2 linked regions of the Homo sapiens genome follow. The protein of the gene in region 1 purifies or fractionates together with the protein of each later gene. This does not show direct contact. Each region holds a gene or a part of one and is shown on either strand. Other genes may lie near its edges.

Evidence for each region.
Region 2: the proteins of SBF2 (region 1) and SQOR purify together in Homo sapiens (affinity purification with mass spectrometry, with the first as the bait; one large-scale study listed by BioGRID). This does not show direct contact.

What each region holds. Positions count from the first base shown.
Region 1 is NC_000011.10:10,284,181-10,287,999, reverse strand, and holds part of SBF2 (myotubularin-related protein 13), read left to right. Parts: intron 1-3,819. UniProt on the Homo sapiens protein: Guanine nucleotide exchange factor (GEF) which activates RAB21 and possibly RAB28. Promotes the exchange of GDP to GTP, converting inactive GDP-bound Rab proteins into their active GTP-bound form.
Region 2 is NC_000015.10:45,672,940-45,676,758, forward strand, and holds part of SQOR (sulfide:quinone oxidoreductase, mitochondrial), read left to right. Parts: intron 1-667; coding exon 668-862; intron 863-3,161; coding exon 3,162-3,371; intron 3,372-3,819. UniProt on the Homo sapiens protein: Catalyzes the oxidation of hydrogen sulfide with the help of a quinone, such as ubiquinone-10, giving rise to thiosulfate and ultimately to sulfane (molecular sulfur) atoms.

The sequences.
Region 1 (3,819 bases):
CACAGCCTCGCAGAGAGCTGGCACTTATGCCAGCACCTGGAGCTGCCCACCCTGTGGCAGCAGCTGACATGTCTGACTGGGCAATGGCCAGACTGTACGCTCGCTTACACACCCCTCACCACTCCACGCCTGACTCCAGTCTTTCTTGGAGGCATGGGATCCAGGCTGGTAGCGTGAGCTGAGTGTAGCCTACAAGGCCGAGTGGGTGGGAATGAGGCTAGCAGGTCTGAGCAAAACTCAGGCAGAGGTGCCACCAGCCACAGGTTTCTGGCCAGAAAAGTGACACCCTAAAGATCCCATAACAATATCTAATAAAGTATAAATTACATGCAATAAAATTTACTCTTTTAAGTGAACATTTCAGTGAGTTTTGACAAATACATACATTAGTGTAGCCACTACTGCAATCAAGATATAGATATAGGGCTGGCCGCTGTGGCTCATATCTATAATGGCAATGCTTTGGGAGGCTGAGGCTGGAGGATTGCTTTAGACCAGGAGTTTGAGACCAGCCTGTGCCACATGGTGAGCCCCATCTTTGAAAAAAAAAAATAGCCTGGCGTGGTGACACATGTCTGTAGTTCCAGCTACTTCGGATGCTAAGATGGGAGGACTGCTTGAACCTAGGAGTTCGAAGCTGCAGTGAGTCATGATCACTCTACTGTATTCCAGCCTGAGTGACAGATTGAGACTCTGTTTCTAAAAATAGGTAGATAGATAGATAGATAGGGAACATTTTCATGCTTCCAAAAAGTTCTCTCATGCCTCTTTGTAGTCAGTTCCCTTTCTAGCATCTGGCAGTCACTGATCTGTTTTCTGTCTGTATGTTTTTGTCTTTTCTAGAATGTCATATAAATAGTATACAGTTTTTTGTGTCTAACTTTTTTCACTTAGGATCATACAGTTGAGATTTATCTATGTTGAATTTATTGGCAGTTGTTCCTTTTTATTGCTTAGTATGATACGATTTATCCATTCACCAGTTGAAGGACACTTGAATTTCTAGTTTTGGGCTATGGTGAACATAATTGTTCTGAACATTTGCATACAGATCTTTGAATGTTTTCATGTTCATGTTTTTATTTCTCTTGGGTAAATACGTAGGAGAAGAATTGCTAGGTCATAAGTGTCTTATTTGTGTGAGACTGACAAACTTTTCTAATTGGCTGTGCCATTTTACATTTTCACTAGCAATGTATGAGAGTTTCAGTTATTCTTTTTAAATTTAATTTATTACTTAAAAATATTTTTGGTTGCTCTGCCTGTGGAGTAGCCATTTTTTGTTAACTTCTCTAATAAACTTGCCTTCACTAAAAAGACAAAAAAACAAAAAACAAAAACAGGCTGGGTGCCGTGGCTCACACTTATAATCTCACCACTTTGGGAGGCCAAGGTGGGTGGATCACGAGGTCAGGAGAACGAGACCATCCTGGCCAACATGGTGAAACCCCGTCTCTCCTAAAAATACAAAAATTAGCTGAGTGTGGTGGCGTGCACCTGTAATCCCAGCTACGTGGGAGGCTGAGGCAGGAGAATGGCTTGAACTCAGGAGGCAGAGATTGCAGTGAGCCGAGATCGCAGTGAGCCGAGATCGCACAACTGCACTACAGCCTGGCGACAGAGCAAGACTGTCTCAAAAAAAAAAAAACCAAAGAACAAAAACTTCCTCTAGCTTTATTGAGATATAATTTACAAATAAAAATCATATATATTTATGGTGGACAGCGTGATGTTTTATGTATACATTGTGAAATGATTACCACAGTCAAGGTAATTAACATATCCATCACTTCACATAGTTACCGTGTGTGTGTGTGTGTGTGTGTGTGTGTGCGTGTGCGTGTTTATGTGAAGAAATTTAAAATCTCTTTTGGCTGGGCGTGGTAGCTCACGCCTGTAATCCCATCACTATGGGAGGCTGAGGTGGGTGGATTGCTTGAGTCCAGGAGTTTGAGACCAGCCTGGGCAACAGGCTTTTTTCTCCAAAAAAAAGATCTACTCTCTTAACATACCTCATTTGTGGTTTTAATTTGCGTTTTCCTGGTGACTAATAATGCTGAACACCTTTTCGGGTGCTTGTTGCCATTTGTGTATTTTTTTGTAAAGTGTCTGATCAAATTTGTGCTCTTTTTTATTGGGTTGTTTGACTTCTTACTGTTATTGGTGGAGGGTGTCCAGGTTCTTGGTGTTTTGAAGAAAGAATTGGACAAAATGCACAAACAAAGCAATGACAGAAAATTACAGATTTATTGAAATGAAAGTACACTCCACAGGGTGGGAATGGGCTTGAGCAAGCAGCTTGAGAGTGCTGGTTACAGAATTTTCTGGGGTTTAAATACCCTCTAGAGGATTCCCATTGGTTATGCAGTGTATGCCTTATGTAAATGAAGAGGATGAAGTGAAGTTACAAAGTTATTTACTTGGTGTACACCCTATGCAAATAAAGAGGATGTTTCCTGACATAGCTGAAGGGAAATTACACAATTATTTACTTGGATGTAGAAAGTTGGGGTTTTTCTGTTTGATTTAGTTCTAGGAAGTCCTTAGGTTCCCTGCCACCAGGTCCTATTCTCCTGCCTCAGTATTATTGAGATTTTTTTTTTTTCTAATTCTAGAAAGTCTGTCCCTCCCTCCCTTTTTCCTCCCCTCTCCCCTCTCTTCCTTCTCTTGCCTTCCCTTCTCTTTTTCCTTTCCTTTCGTCTCACTCTGTTGACCAGGCAGGAAGGCAGTCGCACAATCACAGTTTACTGAAGCCTTGATCTCCCAGGCTCAGTTCATCTTCCCACCTCAGCCTGCCGAGTAGCTGGGACTACAGGTGCACGCCACCATGCCTGGCTAATTTTCTTATTTTTTGTAGAGATGGGGTTTCACCATGTTACCCAGGCTGGTGTTGAACTCCTGGCCTCAAGCAGTCCTTTTGCCTGAACTTCCCAAAGCACTGGGATTACAGCCGTGAGTCACCTCACTGGCCAAATGATACACTCTTTATTTTTGTTCCTAAAGTGTCTTTTCAATTAACAATACTTGCAGTTGAATTTTTAAATATTTATATTTTATAATTGGATTAAAAAAAAAAAACTCTTGTCAGCTGGGTGCAGTTGGCTCACACCTGTAATTGGGAGGCTGAGGTGGGTTATCACTTGTGCCCAGGAATTTGAGACCAGTCTAGGCAACATAGTGAGACCTTGTCTCTACTAAAAATTAAAAAAACATAAAAATGAATTAGCCAGGTGTGATGATGCATGCCTGTAGTCCCAGCTGCTTGGGAGGTTGAGGTGGGAGCATTACTTGAGCCCAGGAGGTCGAGGCTGCAGTGAGCTGTGTTTTTGCCATTGTACTCCAGCCTGGGTAACGGAACAAACTCCAGCCTGGGTAATGGAACAAGATCCCGTCTCAAAAACAAAAGCAAAAACCCCTTGTCTTTTGAAAAATTTCTTTTACAAACTGGAAAAAAGAGTTAATGCATGCTATTTGAATTATATAGAAAGAAGGGTGCCTGGTACATCATAGGTAGTTAAGGAAGATACATGGAATGAACACACAGTTGTTGAAAATATGGGGGAAAAAGCTATAAAAAAGGAGGGTGGGAGGTGGATGTGGTTATAAAAGGGTAATTGGGAGGAATTTTTGTGGTGATAAAATTGTTTTATATTTTGACTGGGTGGTGGATACATATATCTTCATGTGTGATAAAATTGCATAGAACTAAATACACACATACAACCACAAATGAGTATAGGTAAAACTGAGGAAATGTGAATGAGATTGGTGGATTGTATGATATCCTGGTGGTGATTTTGTAATTTAATTTTGCAAGAC
Region 2 (3,819 bases), on another chromosome or scaffold:
GGCCTGCTCCCAGTTTCTGATTCAGTAGGTCTAGGGTGGGGCCTGATAATCTGCATTTCTAGCAAGTTCCCAGGTGGTGCTTGTGCTGCTGGTCTGAGCACCACACTTGGAGACCTACTGGCTTAGAAGTATTAGGTAATTTACACAGGGTCACAATGCTAGTAAGTGGAAGAGCCAGGACTCAAACTGGTATGTGGGATCCTAAAGTCCATGTTTTTAGGCACCTGGCTTTAGTGCCTTTATCTAGAGTTTGGTCTGGTACAACCTGATAAAGAGTGATTTAAGTTTGCTATTCTTGATGATATAAATGGCTCTTGGTCCTGCCAGTTGTTCTTTCCAGTGAGGCAACTGGGTCTCCTAAAAGGAAGGCTGGCTGGCGTCTTGTCCTCACTCCGATGGTGGGAAAAGTTGTATTCAAATTGTATTCTCAAGGCCAGGGAGTTGAAGGGTTCCTCTGAGCTGAGCCCATTCTGCAGTTTGACAGGTGACTACAGGTGCCACAGCTCTGGTCTTAGAACCCTCACCCACCTGCCTGCTCTAGGCATGTGGGTATTGGAGGGTAATGATAGTACTGAAATATTTGAAAGGTTGTAGAAATGGCAAAGAACAAGGACTCTAAAGACATTTGCACTTTTGTTTAAAATAATTTTTGTGTACTTTGTTGCAGATTAAAGGCCTACCTGAAGGTTTCGCTCATCCCAAAATAGGGTCGAATTATTCAGTTAAGACTGTAGAGAAGACATGGAAAGCTCTGCAGGACTTCAAAGAGGGCAATGCCATCTTCACCTTCCCAAATACTCCAGTGAAGTGTGCTGGAGCCCCTCAGAAGATCATGTACTTATCAGAAGCCTACTTCAGGAAGGTATGCTTCCTTTCTGGGGACAGAGATGAGCAGGGCGGACAGTGCTAATTCACTGATTGCAAGAATTCCATTTTATCTCTATTGTAATCCCTTTTTTATCTCGGAATTTTTATTACATGTGTACAAAATTAGTTAACTGGAAGTTTATAAAATATAAAAGAGGAGAAAATCACTCATGATCCAATTGCTTTAATAAAGCTGCAGTTTTCAATTTGACATGGCTTTCCAGCTTTTTTTCTGTATACTTAAATATGGTTACAGTCATAGTGTACATGAAAAATTTAGCTGTATTATGTAATATTAAATAGTCTTTGTTACATACTTTTTAAATGTGTGTGTAAAAGTCTACTGGATGCTGGGTGTGGTGGCTCTCGCCTCTAATCCCAGCACTTTGGGAGGCCAAGGTGGGTGGATCACCTGAGGTTAGGAGTTCAAGACCAGCCTGACCAACATGGAGAAATCCCGTCTCTACTAAAAATACAAAAAAAATTAGCTGGGCGTGGTGGTGCATGCCTGTAATTCCAGCTACTGGGGAGGCTGAGACAGGAGAATTGCTCGAACCTGGGAGGCGGAGGTTGTGGTGAGCCAAGATTGTGCCATTGCACTCCAGCCTGGGCAACAAGAGCGAAGCTCCGTCTTAAAAAAAAAAAAAAAGTCTACTGGAGAGATATGTTAGAGACTGTTTAAATATTTCCATATAGTTAGACAATTAGTTGCAGATTGTTCATTTTTATCCATAATGCTATCCACTACTTCCACTCAAGTTTAAGGTCATGAATATTTTCTGTCCCTTGGGTATACATTAAAAAAATATGATACGGAAAATGCCAATTTAAAAAGCAAAAAAATGTTCTCATAGAACTTTAAACCTTCATGAAAAGAGATATTTGGGCAGGAGGAGACTTTCTCAGCATTCTCCAAATGCTCTCTGTGTAAGAGCAGTTGTCTGCAGCTCAAGTACACCTGGCTTAAGCTTGTAAGGGAAGCTGTTCTTGCCCTCCCTGCTCTTGCCTGGGGTTTGACATTTAGTTTACCAAAGTGCGGTTTGGCTTGAGACAGTGGCAGGATTTCTAGCAGCTAGTCGTGTATGGGGACAGATGGGAAGAAGGGTGGGGAAGAACGGGCTGGGGAGTGGTTGAATGTGCTCATGGAGGCTGGGACTGATCAAGACCTTCCCCTGAGCTCTGTAAACTGCAACAACCCTGTGAGGTAGGGAATTAAAGGCAGTTCCAGTAATCATTTCTGACCCCAAGAAAGTTCATTCTGGGTCATAAAGGGCTGGCACAGCCTTTTGAGACACTTACCCACCTGAATTCTTCAAATGGTGAGATCCGGGTGAGCAAATCATGAAAGGAGCCGAGCAAAGGAAAGAAGAAGAAACCAGCTGTTTCTTCCGTCCTGGAAACTTCTTTGTGTAACTCTTTTCTCCCAAGTCTTAGATGGCCTACGAGGAAGGTTCGAGTACCATAAGATCTTAGGCATTTGGGAGAATATTGGCCTCTCTGATCTTAGGCATTTGGGAGAATATTGGCCTCTCTGAACAATATCAAGAAGGTAGGAACTCAGGGTTTTGTTGTTACTGTTTTTTAGTTTGTTTATTTTTTTTTTTTGGAGACAGAATTTTGCTCTGTCACCCAGGCTGGAGTGCAATGGTGCAATCTCAGCTCCCTGCAAACTCCGCTTCCTGGGTTCAAGCCATTCTCCTGCCTCAGCCTCCTGAGTAGCTGGGATTACAGGCGCCTGTCACCATGCCCAGCTAATTTTTATATTTTTGGTAGAGACAGGCTTGTCTCAAACCATGTTGGCCAGGCTGGTCTGGAACTCCTGACGTCAGGTGATCTGCCTGCCTCGGCCTCCCAAAGTGCTAGGATTACAGGTGTGAGGTACTGCGCCTGGCTGGAACTCAGTTTTGCTCACTGCTGTTCCCTCAGCACCTAGGACAGTATCTGGCCAACTCTAGAACTTTGTTAAATATTTATTGAGTAAATGAATACATGAATATATGAATAAACATTCCGTTCTACTCTACTCTGTCTTGACCTGGACCTAACCTTCACCTCTGGCCTTCAGCTGGACAGTGCCCACCTCAGCCCCCAACTCAAGTGTGTACTTAGTTGTATGTCATGGGCAGAACATAAGGAGGAGGCAGTGGATTGGTCTACCCATTGCTCTGCCAGGACATAATGGTGGCAAAAGCTAGCAAGGTCCCTGCTGAGGGTTTTAATTCTTGTCTGGATTAAAAAAAAAAAAGGCAGCTGCAGTCATGCTTTGGTGTGAATGGTTTTCTTATTTTTCTCAGACAGGGAAGCGATCCAAGGCCAATATCATTTTCAACACTTCTCTTGGAGCCATTTTCGGGGTTAAGAAGTATGCAGATGCCCTGCAGGAGATCATCCAGGAGCGGAACCTCACTGTTAACTACAAGAAAAACCTCATTGAAGTCCGAGCCGATAAACAAGAGGCTGTATTTGAGAACCTGGACAAACCAGGAGAGACCCAAGTGATTTCAGTGAGTGGTGAGGCTAAGCTGTCAGCATGAAGCGTTGTCTGCTGAAACGTGCCATAGATACATGGGGGCTCACACCACCCTATCTGCCATCATTGTGTGCTGGGGAAGACTGGGTGAAATGAGCATCTTAGGGAAGTGTTAGGGCAAGAAGGTAGGCCAAAATGGTTGGGGAAGAGAAAGATGTAAGAGGCTGTGTCAGTGGGAGGTGAGAAGGTGTCGTTAGCTGGTGCCAAGTGAATTTTTGTCCTATTCCTTTGACTCAACTTTTCCTGGCATCGAGTCACTTGAGGTAGCCAAAAATATTCCACAACTTTGGTTACTGTGTAGAGGTAAGGGAGGGCTTCCTCGAATGCAAGATCTGGTGATTGTCTCAATTGGTGGCATGTGAGAAACAGTCCTGCTTGTGAGCAGGAAGTAACCCTGTGGGTAGTTGAAGAAAACAGGGATT